Linked DNA regions of Homo sapiens: regions 1, 2, 3 and 4 are each linked to region 5. Evidence: fine-mapped expression QTL. A gene starts in region 5. Each other region holds a variant in brackets. All regions are shown on one strand. Distances are between the middles of the regions. Region 1 has its middle 20 kb from the start of RSPO4. Region 2 overlaps RSPO4 (R-spondin 4). Region 3 has its middle 58 kb from the start of PSMF1. Region 4 overlaps RSPO4 (R-spondin 4). Region 5 holds the start of RSPO4 (R-spondin 4).

The links.
Region 1: its variant is fine-mapped to the expression of RSPO4 in anterior cingulate cortex (GTEx, PIP above 0.99).
Region 2: its variant is fine-mapped to the expression of RSPO4 in tibial artery (GTEx, PIP above 0.99). The same link has a PIP of 0.9 or more in ovary.
Region 3: its variant is fine-mapped to the expression of RSPO4 in prefrontal cortex (ROSMAP, PIP 0.95).
Region 4: its variant is fine-mapped to the expression of RSPO4 in cerebellum (GTEx, PIP 0.99).

What each region holds. Positions count from the first base shown.
Region 1 is chr20:1,020,665-1,024,812 of GRCh38, reverse strand. No RefSeq gene overlaps it. Among named protein-coding and RNA genes, the nearest start is that of RSPO4, 20 kb to the right of the region's middle. The variant T/A (reference allele first, on the strand shown) is at 2,454.
Region 2 is chr20:955,028-959,175 of GRCh38, reverse strand. RSPO4 (R-spondin 4) reads left to right here. Exons shown (of 5, transcript NM_001029871.4): 5 at 1-724. Among named protein-coding and RNA genes, the nearest start is that of ANGPT4, 41 kb to the right of the region's middle. The variant A/G (reference allele first, on the strand shown) is at 2,552.
Region 3 is chr20:1,058,742-1,062,889 of GRCh38, reverse strand. No RefSeq gene overlaps it. Among named protein-coding and RNA genes, the nearest start is that of PSMF1, 58 kb to the left of the region's middle. The variant G/A (reference allele first, on the strand shown) is at 2,193.
Region 4 is chr20:973,322-977,321 of GRCh38, reverse strand. The region is part of intron 1 of RSPO4 (R-spondin 4); the gene reads left to right. Among named protein-coding and RNA genes, the nearest start is that of RSPO4, 27 kb to the left of the region's middle. The variant C/T (reference allele first, on the strand shown) is at 1,945.
Region 5 is chr20:1,000,136-1,004,279 of GRCh38, reverse strand. RSPO4 (R-spondin 4) reads left to right here and starts at 1,969. Exons shown (of 5, transcript NM_001029871.4): 1 at 1,969-2,194. The coding sequence starts at 2,116.

The DNA.
Region 1 (4,148 bases), 21 kb before region 5:
TGTGTTTTTAGTAGAGACAGGTTTCACCGTGTTAGCCAGGATAGTCTCAATCTCCTGACCTCGTGATCCACCCGCCTCAGCCTCCCAAAGTGTTAGGATTACAGGCGTGAGCCACTGCGCCTGGAAAGTTTGTTTTGTTTTTACCGTAAATGTTACATATTATTGTTCTGTGACTTGCTATTTTCTTTTGATAATGTATCTTGGAGATCTGACCACATCAGTATGAAAACACTATTTTTTTAAAGAAGAACACACAATATTTCACAGTCAGAATAAACCATAACTTTATTAGTGTAGTATTGTTTGGCATTTAGGTCATTTCCAACTTTTGCCATTTAAACAGCACTACAAAAACACTCTTTGACCCATTCCTTTGAATATTTGTATGTCTCAGTCGAGCGTATGGCTAAAGGAGGAATGTCTGCATCAGTGTTTGTGCATTTTCATTCTAATAAATGTTGCCAAATTGCCTGCCAAATATATGACCCCAGTTTACACACTGTCCATTCATTCACTCATTTATTTATTGACTCACATACTTGATAAATATTTATCAAGGATCTACTCTGTTCTGGGCACACTGTTCTAGGTTCTGGGAATTCAGCAGTGATGAGGAGGTAGTCCTTACTCTCATGGAACTTGCAATCTGGTCAGAGAGAGAGATCCCCAACACGTAGAGACGTATATATATGGTGTGTCAGGTGACGAGAAACGCTAAAAGTAAGTTAAGGTGTCTGAGCATGCCTATTTCCCCACACTGTGACCAACACTGATATTACCCATTCTTCTGATATTTTTTTCTAATTTGATAGCTATTTCCCCTATTGTGAATTGTGTTCTTATCCCTTTTTGCCCATTTTATTGATGGAGTGTTTTTTTCCTTTGTCCTTATTGATTTGTGGGAGCTCTTATTTTATTGTGGATTTTAATCCTCCGACTATTAAATATGTTGCAACTATTTACCCCAGCCTGTTAAATGTTGAGCACCTGTAATTTGAAAATCTGAAATTGAAAATGCTCCAAAATCCAAAATTTTTGAGTACCAACATGATGCCACAAGTAGAGAACTCTATACCTGACCTCACGTGACAGGTTGCAGTCAAAATGCAGGTGCACAACACACAGAAAAATAAAATTACCTTCAGGTAACTTGTATAAGGTATACACGAAACATGAATGAATTCTGTGTTTAGACTTGGGTCCTATACCCGAGGTAGGACTGTATATGCAAATATTCCATAATCCAAAAGAATCTGTTATCTGAAACACTTCTGGTTCCAAGCATTCCAGATAAGGGATACTCAACCTGTCTGGTTTTTATATTTGCTCATGGTATTTCACAAAGTCCTTTTGATGGGGAACCACAAGGAAAATTGTTTCAGACTTTTATTCTAAGAAAAGTTGGGCTTCTTCTCAGGAACCGGGTTGTTTTTTTTTTTTTTCCTACAAATCCACGTAACTGCATTTTCTTTTTCTTGCTTTGGCTACAAAGAATCTCAGAACAAACTTGTCTGTTCACCTTTAGCAACTGTCCAGAACTTTACAGCAGGCATTCAATAACCTAACCTCATCCTTGAGTTCACCTTTTCTCCCCCTTCTCACAATTTCATTATCTCTTTCTTTTCCTAATCTCTGGCTTTAATACATTTGTAAGCTGTCTTAAATCATTTTTGCAACAAGGTTGGGCATAAATAAATGATTTTGTTTCCCACTCACTGCAGCCCATTTCACAGATGATAAAACTGAGTCCCAGAGAAGGGCAGCAACCTGATCCAGGGCTGCAGTGAGTCAATGGGGAAGAAGAGACTCTCATTCAACCTCTCCATGCTTGGTGGGTTCCTTTCCTGCTCTGTCCATTTCTGAAGAGATCACTTGTCTCTCATTTGCCAACTGTATTAATCAGAAGTCTGTATTAATCAGAATTGCCAAGTGACAGAAATCCTGTTGAATAAACAAAGAGAATTACTTATTCCCTTATTGCCCCATAAGGTGCAAACCAAATGGAGTTCAGGCATGGTTTGATCCAAGTACATGGACAGGATCAGAAGCAGGCCTCCGTCCACACTCAGCTTTGCATCTCTTTTTGCTTGGTAATATCATCCTTTCCTGCTTCAGACAGCTTCATTCCATGTGGCATAAATATGACACCAGCAGCCCCAAGGCTACATCCTGACACATGAAGATGGAGACCCTCCCCTATAGCCCCAGCAGAAAAACAGGGCCCCACTTGGAAAGCTCTCCCCTGGTAGGCAAAGTGACAGACATCTTGATTGACAACTCCATCCTGTCTCTCGGAGTCAGGGAGGAGTTCCCCAGAGACAGGAACATGGGAAAGTGTGGAGGACAGACACACTCTTCAGTGACCAGTGCCTATTGTCCCAGGGAAACAAAAGACTCCCAATCAGCAGGGGAAAGAGATGCTCCTCCCAAGCACAAATCAGCCAGTGAGTGAC[T/A]TTGGTCTTTCTTCAACAGAAACTCATCTTCTTCCCTCCTGCTCTTGAGCTCTTGGTGGCTTTCAGGGATAAACTACCACCATCGCCTTCAATAACAGCATCTTTCAACTCATTCTGCCTCCACATCCTGCCTTTTGCTGTTTCCTGTCCCCTTCCTATCACCTAGCCAAATGCTAGCATCTCTTCTTCAGGGATCCTTGCTTGAATAACCCAACCAGGAATGTCTTTCTCTTCTGAACTTCATACCCCATCCAAATACATTTTTTAAAACTAACAATGACTATGTGCTTGGCTTTACTGGAAAAGACAAAAAAAAAAAAGTCTCAGAAGGTGCATCAGATTTGACCGGAAATACCATTTCAGAGGATTGGCTGAGTAGTTTCTGGGAGGCTGTTTTCATGCTAGAGAAAGCAAACAACATACCTATCATGGTCCCCAAGGTTGTTTAGAAGACCAAATAAGAAAATAAATGGGAAGAGAAGGCAGTTAATATTTATTAAACACCTATTATGTACTAACACTGGCAAGCTTGTTATGTACATAATCTAGTTGAGACCTTCCCCAAACCTTGCCAGGTAAATATCAATTTAAAGACAAGAAAACTGATGTTCAGAGAGGTGAAGTGGCTCACCCAAGATCACACAGCCAGAGACTTGAAGAACTGGGATTTGAATTATCCAGCTGTCCTGTTCTCTTTCCACTCATTCCCTAATAAACACCCCCCATTATTAAATGATGACTCACACTACAGAAATGTCTCCTAATTAAATTTGAAAATAGGAAAAGCATTTGGAATTACTCTGAGGAGGCTAGCCTTAGCAGAATTACTTCCATACCAAGAATTTGTTCCCCAGCTATGTAGCAGCTGGATTTTTTTTTCATTTTTTGATGTTCCCAATGAGTGGAATGTAAGAAGCACAGAAGATGACCAGTTTCCACACTTCACTTCCTTCCCAGGCTGCCTCAAACCCTTTGTCCAACAGGGACATATAAATCAATTGATCAATCAAGAAACGAATCAATGAATTAATAAGTCCCCACTTTTGCAAGATATGCTTGTTTGGGGGCATTTATTGACCCACGGTGGACACACCAAAGTCCTAGGCTTTGTCTCCCAAAACACGGTGACAGTCAGTGGGGAAAGCTGGTTTGTCTTATAGCCAACAGTCCAAGAACACATCTGTTGCCAGGCTCCACGTCAAGCCACTGAAATTGTATGGGCGCTTTTCTCTTTCCTACCATATAGAGTTGTAGTAAAATAAGCTGGGTTTGAATATCCTGGCTTCATCCTCTCTGTGATCTGAAAGGCATTCCTTCACTGAGCCTCTGTTTCCTCACAAGTAGAAAGATGGGCTGTGCTGGGTGATTGTGAAGCTGGCCTCCAAAACTGGCCCTGAGTGAATCTGCAACTGCCTCTCACTCTGAGTCTGGTGCCTAGTAGGTACTCAAACAAATAATTTCTTGGGAGGTTGAATCTGAGTGGAGTGAAACGTTAGACTATGGGACTTGAGAGTTGGGCAAATCTGGTGCCACCTCTCAGCCATGTGACCTCAAGCACACACCACATGACCTCTCTGGGCCTCCGCTTACTCTTCAGCAAAAGGGAGCTGCTGATGGCACCTTCAGAGGGTGGTGAAGCTGAACCGGCTAAGGTATGTGAATGGTGCTCACTGACGGTTCGCCCCTTCCTTTCTT
Region 2 (4,148 bases), 45 kb after region 5:
CACTTGCCCACACCCATCACCGCACTCGCCCACACCCACCACCACACTGCCCCACACCCACCACCACACTCCCCCACACCCACCACCACACTCGCCCACACCCACCACCAGTGACTTGAGCATCTGTGCTTCGCTGTGACGCCCCTCGCCCTAGGCAGGAACGACGCTGGGAGGAGTCTCCAGGTCAGACCCAGCTTGGAAGCAAGTCTGTCCTCACTGCCTATCCTTCTGCCATCATAACACCCCCTTCCTGCTCTGCTCCCCGGAATCCTCAGAAACGGGATTTGTATTTGCCGTGACTGGTTGGCCTGAACACGTAGGGCTCCGTGACTGGGACAGGAATGGGCAGGAGAAGCAAGAGTCGGAGCTCCAAGGGGCCCAGGGGTGGCCTGGGGAAGGAAGATGGTCAGCAGGCTGGGGGAGAGGCTCTAGGTGATGAAATATTACATTCCCGACCCCAAGAGAGCACCCACCCTCAGACCTGCCCTCCACCTGGCAGCTGGGGAGCCCTGGCCTGAACCCCCCCCTCCCAGCAGGCCCACCCTCTCTCTGACTTCCCTGCTCTCACCTCCCCGAGAACAGCTAGAGCCCCCTCCTCCGCCTGGCCAGGCCACCAGCTTCTCTTCTGCAAACGTTTGTGCCTCTGAAATGCTCCGTTGTTATTGTTTCAAGACCCTAACTTTTTTTTAAAACTTTCTTAATAAAGGGAAAAGAAACTTGTAAATGCTTCTTGAGCATCAAGAGGGTGTTGCAAAACCATGATACTGCTGAGTTTGGAGTAGCAGAATTTAAAACATGTGGAGTGGTTTTCACAGGAATGCTTGGGGCTGAGAGGGGTCAGAGTGTATTGGGGATTGGGGTGGGGTTTCAGCTTGGGGGGAGCTGATAAAAGAGGAGGGGCCCTCAGCCCCTCCAGGCTACTCTCAAGAAGCAGACTCAGCCAGAGGCAGAAGAGGGTGACACCTCGATCCCCAGAACCTCGCAGTTTCACGAACCAGATGTCTCAGGGACCAGGGGTACCTAGGAGGTTGACAGTCCCACGGGGCCATCTAAACACCCTGGGCTGCTGGTGAGAGTGGCCTTGGCATTGGGAGGCACAGGTGGGAGCTCCAGCCTGTCACCAGCTATCTGATGGGGTCCAGGTCAAGTCACTTCCCCTTCCGGGGCCTCAGTTTTCCCATGTGATGAATGTGATGAAGAGGAAGCCTGGCTAAATTAAATCTATTGCCGAAATCTGGAAGACCCAACAACAGAATCCCCTGGGGAGCCTTTTAGAAATTCAGGTTTTGGGGCCCTCCCCCAGATCTATTCATTGCAAACAAGTTTAGGAGCAGGCAGTGAGAGCAAACATTCTTTCCAGGACAAGCTGAGGGGAGAGGTGGCTCTCAGATGACTTCCAGCTCAGAGGGCTGAGTCTAGATTTGCAGCTGCAATTCTGATTCTGACCTCAAGGCTCAATGATCTGATTCTACAGAGTTTAGTCTGTATGTGTGTGTGTATGTGTGTGTATCTTTTTAATTTTTTTTTTTTTTTGGCAGGGTCTTGATCTGTCACCCAGGTTGGAGTGCAGTGGTACGATCACAACTCACTGCAGCCTCAAACTCCTGGCCTCAAGCAATCCTCTTGCCTCAGCCTCCCAAGTAGCTGGGACTACAGGTGTACACCACCACACCCAGCTAATTTTTTATTTTTTGTAGAGATGGGGGTCTCAATATGTTACCCAGGCTAGTTTTGAACTCCTGGCCTCAAATGATCCTCCCACCTCAGCCTCCCAAAGTGCTGGGATTACAGGCATGAGCCACTGTACCCAGCCCCTATATAAATAAATATATATATAAATATATATATATATACACACACACACACACACACACATACATACACTATATAGTGTTTTCTGTTAAGATTCCAGTTTTAGGATGCTGAACGTTCTAATTTTCACAATTCTAAAAGACCAACATAAGGGTAGAAGTTTCCAGTACTGCAATTCCCTGGCCATGTTCTTTCTTCTTGGGGGGCCTGGTCCTCTGTCCTCAGCTGGGGGCTGTGGTGGTTTTTTAATATTTTCAAATTACAGGATGAAATTTCTTCAGGGCCTAAGCCCCTCCTATAACCTTTCCATCTCAGACGTTCCCTGCCCCCAGCTCCAATCCTTTCAAATCCCAGCCTCTCCCACATTCTCTGGAGGATTGAGGGGCCTCTCTGGGAAGGAGACTCTGCTGTCAGGTGGGCATCGCCCACTCCCTTCTTACAAGCCAAGCTTGGAGAAGTTCACAGAGAAGCTCAGAAACAGGGTGAGGTCACACAGCCAAAGAGAGGCAGTCTGGGCAGAGCCCAGGGGGAGGTTCCGCTGCTATTGGCCTTCTGGATGCTATGCCAGAGGGAGAGAACAACCCCTTGGCCAGAGCTGAGGAATCCCTGGTGGGTTCTTCCTGTCACCGCTTCCAACTGGGCCACACTAGGGCCCTCTCTGCAGTTCCCCCCACCCGCTCACTCCATCCTCATCCTCACCACAGCCCTGCATGTCATTCCCACATGCTGCCACCGGATG[A/G]CGGCAGTCAACCAGGAACAGGTCGCAGCCAGGCTTGTCAAGGAGCGCATTTCTGAAACGGGGTCGTGTTGCGGTTCTCTCCTAGCAGGACTGGAGCAGGGTGGAGGGTAGCCGAGGGCAAGGGACAGGCTGCCTCAGACCGAAGGACTGACTGCCTCAGGCTGAAGGACAACAGTTGCAATGGGGACTTCAGCTGAATGGCCTTCTCAGCTGTGCAGAGAGTGTCAGACTCAGAGGTCCCTGTCCCAGGTCCTTCCTTGCACAGAAGGGAAATCTGACTCAGAGCATGACCTCCTGCCCAGACATCTGGCCCAGGTGACCTATGGGGATTACACCTCTCCATTTTCGCTTGGAAGAAAATTTCTTTTTTCTGTCTTTGTTTGTTTGTTTTTTAAGATGGGTAATAGCTCTATCGCCCAGACTGGAGGTCGGTGACATGATCCCGGCTCACTGCAGCCTCGACCTGCAGGGATCAGTTGATCCTCCCACCTCAGCCTCCCAAGTAACTGGGACTACAGATGCACACCACAATACCCAGCTATGTTTAAAATTATCTGTAGAGAAAGAGTCTTGCTATGTTGCCCAGACTGGTCTTGAACTCCTGGGCTCAAGCGATCCTCCTGCCTCAGTCTCCCAAAGTACTGGGATGACAGGTGTGAGCGACCGCACCCAGCCCAGAGGAAAATTTCAAGCCATCGTATGTGGACCTTCTAACTCAGGAAATGTGCATTCTTATAATACAAATAATAGTAATGATGAGGATGAGGATGATGACGTCATCTTATATTTATGGAGCACCTATTCTGCACCAAACATAGCTAAGCATTTCAGGTGCAATATCTAATTTCCTTTGCTTTTCTCTCTTCAGCATAAATCATAACTACCATTTTTCTACCAATTCCTCTTACTAACCTCGCATTTCCCACCTATCTCCTGCCACCTTCACAGCTACGTTGCCAGCTAACTTCTAGGAGGAAAAACTGAGGCTCAAGTTCAAGTCATTCAAAATCCATCAGTCTCACCCATTCATTCATTCCGTGAATATGCATAAAGTGCCTACTGTGTGCCTGGTACTGTCCTGGGTGCTGGTGATAAAGACCCTGCCTTGTCCTCCAAGCGTTCAGTCTGCAGACAGTCAATTCCAACAATGTGATAAGACCTTCCATGAGGACAGGATCTAGCATATCCTGTCTAAGGCATACAGGGGTTAGGGAGCTCCTCCTCCAGGACCAGATAGCCAAGCTGAGAATTAAAGAGTGCGAGGTGTTAATGAGATGGGTGGGGAGGGGGAGGAAACAGCACTTGCAAAATCCTGGAGAAGCTATTCATGGGGGCGCCAGCCCTGGAATTGCTAAGCCTCCTAAGCTGTCAGATCCTGGAACATGTGGACTCAGCCCTGGGGTCTGATGGCTCCCACTCAGCCCCCCATGACTCCCACCCTCACCCATAGCCATAGCCAACCTACCATCCACAAGGTGGAATGGATCCTCCAGCCAGACTTGTAGCTGAAGAAGCCTTCTCGCAAGTGGGTCTTCTAGTCCTTGCTGTTTTACCCGCTGCCCCTCCTTACCCCCCACTGCAGAACCCTCCCAGCCAC
Region 3 (4,148 bases), 59 kb before region 5:
CTCCCTGTGACGGTGATGCATGCTAAGGTTTGAGAAACCTGAGACAGAAAGAGCATAGGGGGTGGGAAGGAGGAGAGGAGCTCACATGTGAGTCCTGAGTCAGCTGGCATCTAGAAACCAGGTAGATGGGGAGAAGCCAGCAGAGGAGACTGAGGAACAACCAGGGCTGTGAGCATACAGAAGCCCAGACAGGATCATGTATCAAGGAGGGTGCTGCCAACTGGATTGAATGCTCAGGGAATTCAAATAAAATAAGATCAGGAAAATGAGTACTGGATTTGGCAGCATGCAATCCTGGTTGGCTTGGCAGAAGCTGTTTTAGCACAATCGAAGCAAGTCCCTGGAGGAGGAAATGGTCTTGCAGGCTTGCGCTTGGCATGGACTTGGGACTCAGGCTGGGCTCAGACAGTAATTGCTTTTCCTTTCACCTTCGGAAAGTTCATTGTTGAACAAATGCGAAGTATTATTCTCTTCCAATATTGATTTTTTCTTAATAAGTCATGAATAATAATAAAAGTAGATTATTATTTTATAAGCTTGTGGCCTTCAGAGTGCTACTGGCAATCCAAATTTTCACAAAAATTCTGTGAGGTAGAAAGTTAGATCAGGAGTAGATATTGTGAGTTGATTACACAGCAGCCAATTCTTACCCCCTTCTCGTTTGCTGCTTCCCCCAAAGGAGGCTGAACAACAACAACAACAAAACCCTGATATTGGCATTCCCACTTCACTTTCCTGCTAGAGTGGCCATATGATCCATGTCTGCCCAGTAAAATGTAAAGGGAACCTTCTGTGAGACTTTAGGGAAGACACTGTGGAAATATTAAGGTTGGTGCAAAAGTAATTGCTGTTTTTGCTGTTGGTGCAAAAGTAATTGCTGTTTTTTCCATTGAAAGTAATGGCAAAAACCACAACTACTTTTGCACCACAATTTGCCATTGAAAGTAATGGCAAAAACCACAATTACTTTTGCACCAACCTAGTAGAATGGGGAAAGGGAAGGAGGAGAAATGAGAGGGTATGAGTGAGCACTTAGTCCTTACATCACTGAGCCAATAAACCAGCCCTGGAGCTTCTTGCTTCCAGGCATCTAGTTTGTGAGATATTATTGTTTTAGCTACTATTAGGGGTTCTGCTACTTGCAGCTGCAAGCATTTCTAACTGATATGGGAAGATGTTTTTATTTACTTTTGGCAGATAAGAAAACAGCAGTAGAAAAAAGATAAGATTTTCTTAGGGCCTCACAGCAGTGAGTGGCAAGGCCAGGCAGGGTTGGGTTTGGATTCAGGGACTCACCCATACAAGCTTGTTTGTTGGGTCACTATCTCCTGGTGGCAAAGCCTACAGCCATGCAAATCTTTGAGGAGATGACATCTCAGCTGAGATCTGAAAGGGATGGGAAAGGTGTATGTCAGACAAAAAGTACAGTGTGTTCAAAAGACTGAAAGGCTACAAAGGGCTGAAGGTTGCAGGAATTGACCTTGAGCACTGGGCTGATGAGGAAGGGTCTTGAAATGAGTTTGGAGAGGTTGGTGTTCACCAGAAAGCATCTGTGTCACAGTAAATCATACTATTCCTAATTTTCACCTTTTCCTATATCCATGCCCTTTGCCACATGACTCATCAATTTTCTCCACATCTAATTGATGTTGAGCTTGGCCATGTGACTTGCTCTGGCTGATGGAACATGGGCAGAAGTGACAGCACACCAGCTCTGAGCTAAAGCCTATGAGGTCCTGCCTGCTTCCAGCTGTCTTCTGTGGGTCAAGGAGGATGAGAGACGCGTGGAGCAGATCCGCATGCATGCCTGGAGCCCAGCCCAGTCTAGACCACCAGAATCCCAGCTGACCTACAGACCCATGAGTGAGAAGAAGTTATTGTTTTAAGCCACTGAGCTTAGTGGTAGTTAGTTTGCAGCATTGTTGTGACAATCGCCGAGTGAGATAAATGGGAATGCATGACAGTGGGAAAGGTAAATAATATAATCATACTGCCTCATAATCTAGGAGGAAAGTCAGTCATAAACACATAAAATCTAGAATGATTGATAAATAAAATGATAGAGGGAGGTACATGAAGTTGTGGGAAGATGGAAGGGGAGCCTAGCGTCATGGAGAAGGACAGCCAGAGAAGGCTTCCTGGAGGATGTGGCAGCATTATCCTGATGGGCAGAATGGAGTGGGGTGACAGGT[G/A]GGAGAATGGTGTCAGAGGGCACAAGATTACCAAGCTTATGCAGACGTGGAGGCATGAGAGGGGATGCCACATGTCAAGGGTGACTGGGAGTTGCTCTTTGGCAGTGACCTCTCTACCCTGTGCTCTGCTATTCACAAACATCTCATGGCAGGTAAAATCTACCAACTTGAGTTAGTTTTGTTTTTTTTTTTTCTTTCCAATCAATTGCTTGAGCCTCTCCATGCCTTATTAAGAAGTCTTGGTGTGTTCCCAGCTGAGATACTCATCCCATCTCCCCAAGTTTTCCAGGGACTTTATTCAAACATCAAGTGGAAGGAACTAGTAGAGCTCAGTCTGCAGCCATTTCTGCCTCTTGCAGCCACATGGTGCCTCTGTTGAACCCTGGCCCATGCAGGCGGATGAGGAGACTGCTTCCAGGGGCCCAGGGCCTTTCCTGGGCTCACTGGTGTCCTCTGCTTGTGTTCTAGGGTTTTAGCTCCTTCTGGTCTACATACCCATGCTCATCATTGTTCCTCTGATAGGGTAATGTGAGAATTAAATGACTAATGTGGGTAAAAAATTTGGAATAGTGCCTGGTGTATGTTAAGCATGCAGTAGATGCTACTTGTTTTCATTAGTCCTCACAGCATCACTTCTGTACAAGTGTGAGTTGGTTCAAAGAGACTTTTAGCCTCAGCCCTATAATGTGCCCATCTGAAACCCTCTCCATGAACCCATGGCCCTTAGTATGAATGGGGTGGAGGGACAGAGGAGACATCTTTTCTTGAGGGTCGTCTTTCCTCCAGACCTTAGCTTGGGCCACCCTGATCCACCAGGACAGGTCTCCCTAACTGTGGTTGCCATTATGTTAAACTGCTTGGAATCAAAGAAGTGACCCCAAGTAAAGTGGCACTCAGAACTGAGCTGACCCTGAAGGACTTGACAGCTGAAGGCGGGGGAAGCATGGTCAGCAGAGAGCCTTCAGCTTCAGCCCCTTCAAGGTTAGCCTCAGCTTGAGAGGGCCACTTCATCCCAGGCCATGCCCTTCCTGGGGCAACCTGTATTTGGTGAATAGTGAACTATCAAAATGAAGGGGCTGAGACAAAAGTCTGGATATTTTGATATCTTTTGGGATTCTCTGAGGGGTAACTCTTTTTAATTTTAATTTTTGTGGGTACATAGTAGGTATATATATATTTATGGGGTACATGAGATGTTTTGATACAGGCATGTAATTCATAATAATTACATCATGTAGAACGGGGTGTCTATCGAGGGATAATTCTTGCTCCCAACTTCCTCACCATGTTGACCAACGCTTTACTGGGTCACATTGCAGTTAAGTATCTCCTCCTCCTCAACCCTGATTCCTGCCCCTTTCTTTTCCAGATATTGATTCCTAATAAACACCTTGCACCTAAACTCTGTCTTCGTGTCTGCCTGCATAGAACCCAACCTGCAACACAAATTCTGATTCCTGGAGGTCAGGTATTGGCTTTTCCACTTCTTCTTCCTATAAGATCCAGGTCTTCTTATGCATATGGTTCTCCCAGGCATGAGCCTGGCAAACAATGGAGTAAGGTGAAGGGGGAAGCTGTCAGGCCTCAACAGCCTCCACTGCACCCTATCCCAGACAAATGATGCCAGCTCACCTGGCATTCACACAGCTAGTGTGTCTTTCCTTGGCCAAAAGAGTCTAAGGCATCTTGTTGTTTCCTCCTAGTCAGAGCAATGAGTGGTGGCTTCTGTCACCTCATTATACACTGTACTTACTTGTTCTTCATCTGTCTGTCCCATTAGCTGGGGAGTTCCCCCTTTCCTTGAGGATATGCAATATTTTACTCATATCTATACAGAGAATAAATGTGTGTCGAATGAATGCCTATGAGTTTTGCTTCCTCCCCTGGACTGTGAGATCCTTGAGGATGGAAATTATGCCTTTTTCTTGCTTAGCACCCCAAGGCCTAGGGATGGCT
Region 4 (4,000 bases), 27 kb after region 5:
TAACCCTGTTCCACACTAGTAGTTCTCAAAGTGTGGGCCCAGGACCAGCAAAGGTCAGCATCACCTGGGAACCTGTTAGCAATGCGGATTCTCAGGCCCTGCCCAGACCTAATGAATCAGCAACTCTAGGGTAAGGCCCAGCAGCCTGTGTTTTTAACAGGCTCTCTAGGTGAATCTGATGCATGCCCAAGTTTGAGAACCCCTGCTCTACATTGTTTTCTATTGTGAGTGAGTGAAGTGGGTGTTAAGATGTAGCTCAAGGATGATAACATAGGGCAGCTGACCTTTTCCCTCAGTATCTGAAATACAATAGGGAGGGGTAGGGTCTGCAGTAACCTGGGGAACATATGCCTTATTTATGTAACTCTAACCACTCACTGCCCTGTGACAGCAGACCCAGTGTTGGTAGATGTTCTGACTTTTTCCAGAGAAGTTCAAATTCCAGCTTTTTAATGTGAAATCTCTTGATTTTTTAAATGCTAGAAATCTATCCAAATTAGTCTTGTTTTTTTTAAAAAAAATGTATGGGGCTAGGCTTTCTGGCTTGGGTATTAAGGAAATTTCAATGACAGATTCACTGGGCTACTGAGGAGACGAGCTTGCCTAGGAGAACATGACATTTTCAGCGTCCCAGATGTCACCCTGCATTTTTGACCCCTCAGGGAAGTTCTGCAGAGTGAAGGCAGATGGAAGGCATGATATGGCAGAGATGACCCTAAGTTCACTCAAAACCCTGAAATGGAAAAAAAAAATACAGCGATCACTTGCACATGTTGAGCCGTTGACTCCTGTTGAAACAAGGTGCTTGGGGCAGTTCTCAGGATGTGGGTGAACCTGAGCTTAGGGACCCTTATTTGAAGGGCACAGGTTATTCCCTATTCCCAAAAGAAGGAATAAGCCTGCCCTTCACCTAGGACCAAAGCTGCTGGCTAGTATCTCTGCCCTGAGCACTTCACCATCCAGAGGGCAAAAGACCATGTCCCTGGACCCTGCTGGCCTCCTTCCAGCCTCACCAACATCTCTGGCTTTTGTTTGCTCACCTGGGAAAGAGGACAAGGGTCCAGATGTTGGTTGACAGTCCCACTGTGTGTCATGATGGTGAGGGAACAGGGAGGGAACCTAGGTTTACAGAGGAGCACCTACTGTGTGCCAGTGCTTGCTGGTTTGCACATCCCTCATAACAAATCACGTGGAGGTAGGAATTGCTGCCACAATTTTTCAGATGGGGAAACTGAGGCCCACAGAGACGAGGGATCTCATTCAATGAGTGATGGGGCCAGGATATCAACCTGGGAACCTGCATTGTTACACGTCTTTAGATTTTTAAGTCCCTTGAGGGCAGAAAACACATCATTCTCAATATAATAATGGTAGCTTCAGTTTATCAGATGCCTGCTGCAGGTGGTCTGAGCTAACAGTTTTTCACGTACCATCTCCTTTAATCACAACAGCCCTGCAAGATAAGCATTATTATCCCCATTTACAGCTGGAAAAACTGAGGCTTGTAGAGGTAAAGTACCTTGCCCAAGGTCACACAACTGCCCCAAAGCTCATAACCATTGAGTCCTAGCACTGGACCTTACCCAGAATAGGGGCTCAGTAATTGTTGAATGAATGGGTCGATGAATGAATGAATGGATCACTCAACCCTGGGTTAATGCACGCATTCAGAGTTGTCATAAGCCTTTATCACTTTGCAAACTGTCAAATCTGGTGTGTTTGATTCCACTCTCATTCTCCATAAAATGGACATCCAAATCTGGACTCATCCCTCGGGTGCTTGGGGAAACATGGAGTGACTCAGATTTCATTCTAAGCCTCTCCAGCTGCTGGAGCAACACAGGGCCATGCTTTTGTGGCCTACTGGTGTTTTGACTGAGGGAGGATGGTCTTGATTATGGGAGACAGTTGTTAATGGAAGTTACATGGGGTGCCTGCCATCCA[C/T]TGTGATGGCCCAAGAAAACTTGGGGAGGTTGCAACTAGAGCTTGAATGCTTTTAAAATGTGCATCTCAGCTGGGAGAGGACAGCGACAGAGGCCAAGATGTGTAGAAGGACCCAGGGGGTTTCAAAGTGTGCTCCCTGGAACCTCAGTGTCCCCTGGAGCACCAGGGTGATCAGGTTGGATAGGTGGTGCTCCAGGTTCCTCATCCGCGCCAAAGCAGCGCTGCTCCACCGTGATCTGTTCGCTGTCTAGTGAGCTACATCCATTTTTATTGTAATTTGACAGAAGAAAACCAGCTCAAGTGAAAAAGTCACTGGATTTGGAGCTATGGGACAAGCCAAGCTTTGGGAAGGACTGGGAGGCAGTCAGAAATTTTTTCTGTCTCAAGGAGCCCGTGAGGTTCTGGTTGCTGCTTCTCTCTCTGCATCTGATTTATTTTTCTCTCTCTACTTCTGTATTAGTCGGGAATCATCTGGTTGCAAGTGACAGAAAACCTAACTCAATGTGACCTGAGAAAAAAAGAGAATTTATGGATCCCCAGGGTGGATCCACATGCACAGATGACTCTTTTTGGTCTTTGTCTGTGTCTCTTGGCTCTGTTTCTGCTGTATGGCCTCCATTCTCCAGAGGCTCTTCCCTCATGTGGCACCCACCAGCTCTGATCTATATCCTCCTAGATCCAAAGAGAGGAAAGGAAAACACACACATCTCCACACACATCCATTGACCTCAGCAAAAACCCCAAGACTAGCTCTTGTGGGGATGTGAGCCTGTGTCTGAACCTACAACCACTGTAGTCAAGGGGACCTGATGCTCTGATTGGCCAAGCCCAGGTTAAGTGCATCTGGGTGGATATGGCAGCACACGAACCTCAATGCCAGAGAGTGCAGAGGAGCAGAGCCTCTGTTAGCTAGTGCCCACCAAGGCTTCTCACACATGTGCATTGGAACAGGCTACCCTCCCACCTGCAGATCGCCTTAGGTCAAGGCCAGCGCAGACCATTGTCCATCAGCCCAGAGAGAGATGGTCTAATTGGCCCATCCTGGAAGAGACAGCCATTGGTTAGGGTCAGAGTCATGCCCTACAAACAGGATTACTGGGGCCAGTTCTCAGGGAAAGGAAACTGTGAACAGGGAAGACACTTCCAAAATTCTGTTACATTTATTTTGGACTTGTTAAAGTGCACATTCCTGGCCCACAGCAGACGCTTTACAAGCCTCTCTGGAGATTGTTATCACAGTCAAGTTTAAGAACCTTCAAGTTTGGATCTTTCTAGAGCAGCACTCTACAGACTCTTGTCATCACTGATGATTCACAGAATGAACATTCAAGCGCCTGCACCCGTGACTTTAGGGCAGGGGGTAGAGAGAGGCAGTAGCACTGCTTTTTCTAATGAGTTACAGAGACATGACGAAACACCAGACAGGCTACCGGAAGTCAAAAAGCAAGAGGTGCCATTACAACATAGAGGCACAAGAGGGCATCCTAGCCAACTGCCAGGGTCGAGGATGAGGCCAGAAACAGCCACTACCCTTCAAAGACCAGGGTATTGACCTTCAAAGACCAGGGTATTGAAGGATGCTAAGCACCATCCAGTGGGCCAGCACTCTATGAGGCCTGGGAGGGGCTTGTTGGGTTCTTTGGCCTTCAGCATATACTGTAGCTTTTTGAGGTCAGGAGGTCGAGACCAGCCTGGCCAACATGGCGAAACCCCGTCTCTACTAAAAATACAAAAAAATTTAGCTAGGCTTGGTGGGGGTGCCTGTAATCCCAGCTGCTCGGGAGACTGAGGCACGAGAATCGTTTGAACCTGGGAGACGGAGTTTGCAGTGAGCTGAGATCGCACCACTACACTCCAGTCTGGGCAACAGAGTGAGGCTCCATCTCAAAAACAAACAAACAAACAAACAAACAAACAATAAAACAAACAAAAAACAAATAGTGCTATAACTCTAACTGAGGACTGAGGCTTCTTTGCAGTTGGCTGCCTGACTTTGGGGAAAGCTCCACCCCTTCTGGCCTCAGTGTCCCCAGTGAAACTGCAGGAGTTGTGCTGA
Region 5 (4,144 bases):
AGGGGTGGGGCAGTGGGAAAGACTGAGATCAGAGATATCAGAACAAGAGGTCCTTGCAGGCCATGGTGATGACCACAATGGGACACCTGGATGCCCATGTCAGCTCAGTCCTTGACTCACTGGGTGGCCTAATCTAGGCACCCCCCAGTCCTGAAGGCTCAGTGGCCTCATCTGTGAAATGGAGCACTTTGGGTGGGCTGTCTCTGACATTCCACCAAGTTCTCCGTGTTGTCTGCCAGCGTTCTTGGGGCCCCACAGAAAGAATGGCCAGGCCAGGGCTGTACCTTCAGCTGCCACACTCTCTGTGTGTTTCCCCTGCCCCTGCCATGCCTTCAAGTGTCCCTCATTGCACTGGGAGAAGGAGCTGGAGGAGATACCAGCATTTACCTTCCATTTCTTTTGGAGCAAGCTCCACATGTAGGAAAAAAGAGGACAGGCTGGGTGGGGTGGCTCACGTCTGTAGTCCCAGCACTTTGGGAGGCTGAGGCAGGTGGATCACTTGAGGTCAGGAGTTCAAGACCAGCCTGGCCAACATGGTGAAACCCCGTCTCTACTAAAAACTACAAAAATTAGCTGGGTGTGGTGGCAGGTGCCTGTAATCCCAGCTACTTGGGAGGCTGAGGCAGGAGAATCACTTGAACCCAGGAGGCAGAGGTTGCAGTGAGCCGAGATGGCGCCATTGCACTCCAGCCTGGGTGACAGAGTGAAAACCCATCTCAAAAAAAAGAAAAAAAAAAGAAAAGAAAAAGGAAGGACAATTGTTCAGCAAGAGAGTGTCAACTGTAAGTTTCTCTAGGCCTCCCTCCAAGGCCTCTTCCATTCTGATGAGTCTGTGCCTGAGAAGTGGCTAAGAGGGGCAGGCACTGGACCAGAATGGCCACTGACCTGCTGTGTGGCCTTGGGCAAGTCACTTGGCCTCTCTGAGCTTCCCTTTGCTCCCCAGAAAAGTGGAATTACTCAGAATACAAACCCAAACCATTGGGTTGTTTTGAAGACTCTAGTATATGTCAAGTTCTTAGCAATGCCCACCATATATGCCTCACAAATGATAGCTAGCATGATTGTTGTTGTTTTTGGTGGTTATAGTGACAGGAGAGGTGAGCATGCTGTCGGGTTGAAGGAGGAATTTTGCTCTGAAAGGGTTAAACTTGAACCAGCTGCTCCCAGTCCTGGTGATAAGGTTGGAGGAAACACAGTCCAGGTCCCCAGCCCTGTCACAAGTGGATTTATGAGGTGCTGGTCACTTTGAGTCGGAGTAGATGATCCCCGCAGACTGCACAGGAAACATTCAGGGTTAGTGGCCAGAAGGGGCTCAGGCCTCTGTTAAAAGAATGAGACAGAGTAGAGAGAAAAAGAGAAAGCCAGGCAGCAGGAGCCCCGCAAACACCCCACCCTGCAGGAGGGGAGAAGGGGAGAGATGGGGTTGAAGGGAGAGACAGAGAAAAGGGAGAACCAGAGGCCCAGCCAGGAGGACACAGACAGTGAGCCTGAGAGAGAGACGGCCGGCAAGAGTAAAGGATGCAGGAACAGCCAGGCAGGGTCGGGGGCAGAGCAGGGGAGCGCGGGCCGCGGAAAGACCGAGAAAGCAGGAGACAAGGAGTTGTCCTTAAGGGCCAGAAGGAGGAACAGACAGAGAAAGGGGACTGGGGGGAGGGAAAGAAAATCACAGGCGCTGAGAGGGCGCGGGGGACCGTACGGGTCTCCGGGTGTCCGCGCATCTGTACCTGCGCGCGCGTGCGTACCTGTGGCTGGCGGTGGGCACGTGCACGTGCTCGGGGGCAGTGCTGGGGGCGGGAAAGACGCAAGACCGCCGGCTGCGGGACAGATCGAACTCGAGGGCCCCGACCCGGGTGACCCCCGCCCCCTCCCCGCGCGCGCTCCCGGGCCCCGAGCTGGTTAACGCGCCGCCCCCGCCGCGCCGGCTCCTCCCCGCCAGGGCAGTGCCCCGGCTCCGCCAACGCCCTCACTAGACCTGGCGGCCGGACCGACCCGCGCCTGGCGGATGCGCCCGGCGCGCCCACAGCAGCCCCCGCGCCCGCCGTGCCGCCGCCGGGACGTGGGGCCCTTGGGCCGTCGGGCCGCCTGGGGAGCGCCAGCCCGGATCCGGCTGCCCAGATGCGGGCGCCACTCTGCCTGCTCCTGCTCGTCGCCCACGCCGTGGACATGCTCGCCCTGAACCGAAGGAAGAAGCAAGGTACAAGGGGTGGCTGGGCAGGGCGGCCGGGCAGGCGCTGCGGGGCAGACCGGGGGCCGGAGGACCGGGGGCGGCGGCTCTGGGGGCATCTGCCTGGTGCCTGGCGCCCTGGGTCCTTCGCTCCTCCAGACGAGTCTCAACCTCACTTAAGATGGGGAGATTGAGGCTCCAGGGCACCCAGTGAGCGAGCCATTGAGTAGGGTGGGCCAAGGAGACTCACCCAGAAGGGAGAGGGTAGCAGGGCTCTCTGTAGTAGCCGCATGGTCAGCAGAAAGGAGGATGGCTTCGTGCAGAGACAGAAGACTCAAGAGCCAGCCTGCGGGGCACAGGGACTAGGAGACAGACTCAGTGGCGTAGAAGCCATTCCAAGCATCCATGCTCGGCCAGGAAGTGACATAGAGAGCCTTGGGCTGGGCGTCCAGAGGCCCCAGTCCCAGCCTCATCACTCACCCTGACTCCTGGTGTCACCTCCCAGAGGGCAGTGATCCTCCATGGCCCCCCTATGTTGAGTTCAGCCAGACCTGAGACCTGAGTTCAGGTTCACTTATTCTAATAGGGGATGACCTAGAAGAAGTCCAGCCCCTCAGAGAGCCTCAGCTTTTCCATCTTCACCTCTCAGGCCACTAGGAAGATGAGCCAAGGTTCAGATTATAAATGTACCAGGGGCCGCATGCGCTCTCACCTGGGAGTCCTATGCCACAGCCTCGCTGTGAGAGTCAGAACATCCTCAGAAGGTGGGTTGGAGGCTGTCCCTGCAGAGCAGGAGTTGGTAGAGCCTGTGCCTCAGAGAAGGGTAAGCGGGTGAGCAAGTGAGCAAATCGCCTGCCTGAGCTGGGCAGCCCTTTGGCCTCCAGGTGCCACTCTTAAGATCAGCAGCCGAATGCCAGCCACTATGCCACGGGTTTTTCATGTCCTAGCTCATCAAATCCCAACTATATGCTCATGACATAGGGGTCGTCCAGTTTTAATAAAGCCTGGGATTCCAAGGCTCAGACTGGTTTAAATAACTGCTGAATTGTCCAGCTGGTGTCTTCTCTCTTTCCAGCCCTGGCATCGGGTCTGAGCAAGGATAAAGGGGAAGGAAAATGAGAGAGGATGGGTTGCCCTCTGGGGCCTTCCATTTGTGTGAAAGCCCTACAGCGACACAGTCACTCCTGGAACGGAGCAGGAAGCAGACAGAGGCTGTGGGAGAATTGGGAGGTGGGATTGGATGGGGTTGGGGAGACTGTGGCCCAAGAGGCTCCAGTTCTTGCTGTGACAGTGGGACAAGGGACTAGAGAGGCGTGTGGTTTTCAGCTGAGCTGGGGTGAGTTTGGGACTCTATGGGGACACTCCTTTGTGAATGGCCTTTGTTTAGTAGTTAGGGGCATGGGCTCTGGAGCCAGGTCAACTGAGTTCAAATCCCAGCTTCCCCAGTTACCAACTGAGTGACTTTGGATAAGTCACTTTGCCTGTCCAATCCTCACTTTACCCATCTGAGGGTCCTTTAGAAGATCTCTGAGATCTTTCTCCATTCTAAACAATACCAAAAAATCAAACAAACCCCCTTTCCCTTCATCAACCCATCTTTTACTTAAGTATCCTGCTCATAAGGAGGATTGTGGGCAAGATGAGTAGCTAAGGACACAGGCTCCTAATGGGTGCTCGTAAGTATTAATCATTCTCATTTCCTGTCCACTGTGTCTTTGGCTACTCACAGTGGCTTAGTGGAGGGAGGGGAGAGATGCTTGTTTTCTGGATGAGGGAACTGAGGTTCAGAGAAGGAAACTGACTTGTCCAAGGTCGCACAGCAGGTGAGTAGCAAAGCAGGCTCGAATCCCAATCTGCCTGACATAATGCTGAGAAGATATCTTCTGAGGTGTGCTGGTCTTCCCTTCTCAGAGCCTCAGTTTCCTCATCTAAAGAGGAGCTGGTTTAGGCCAGGTGTGGTGGCTCACGCCTGTAATACCA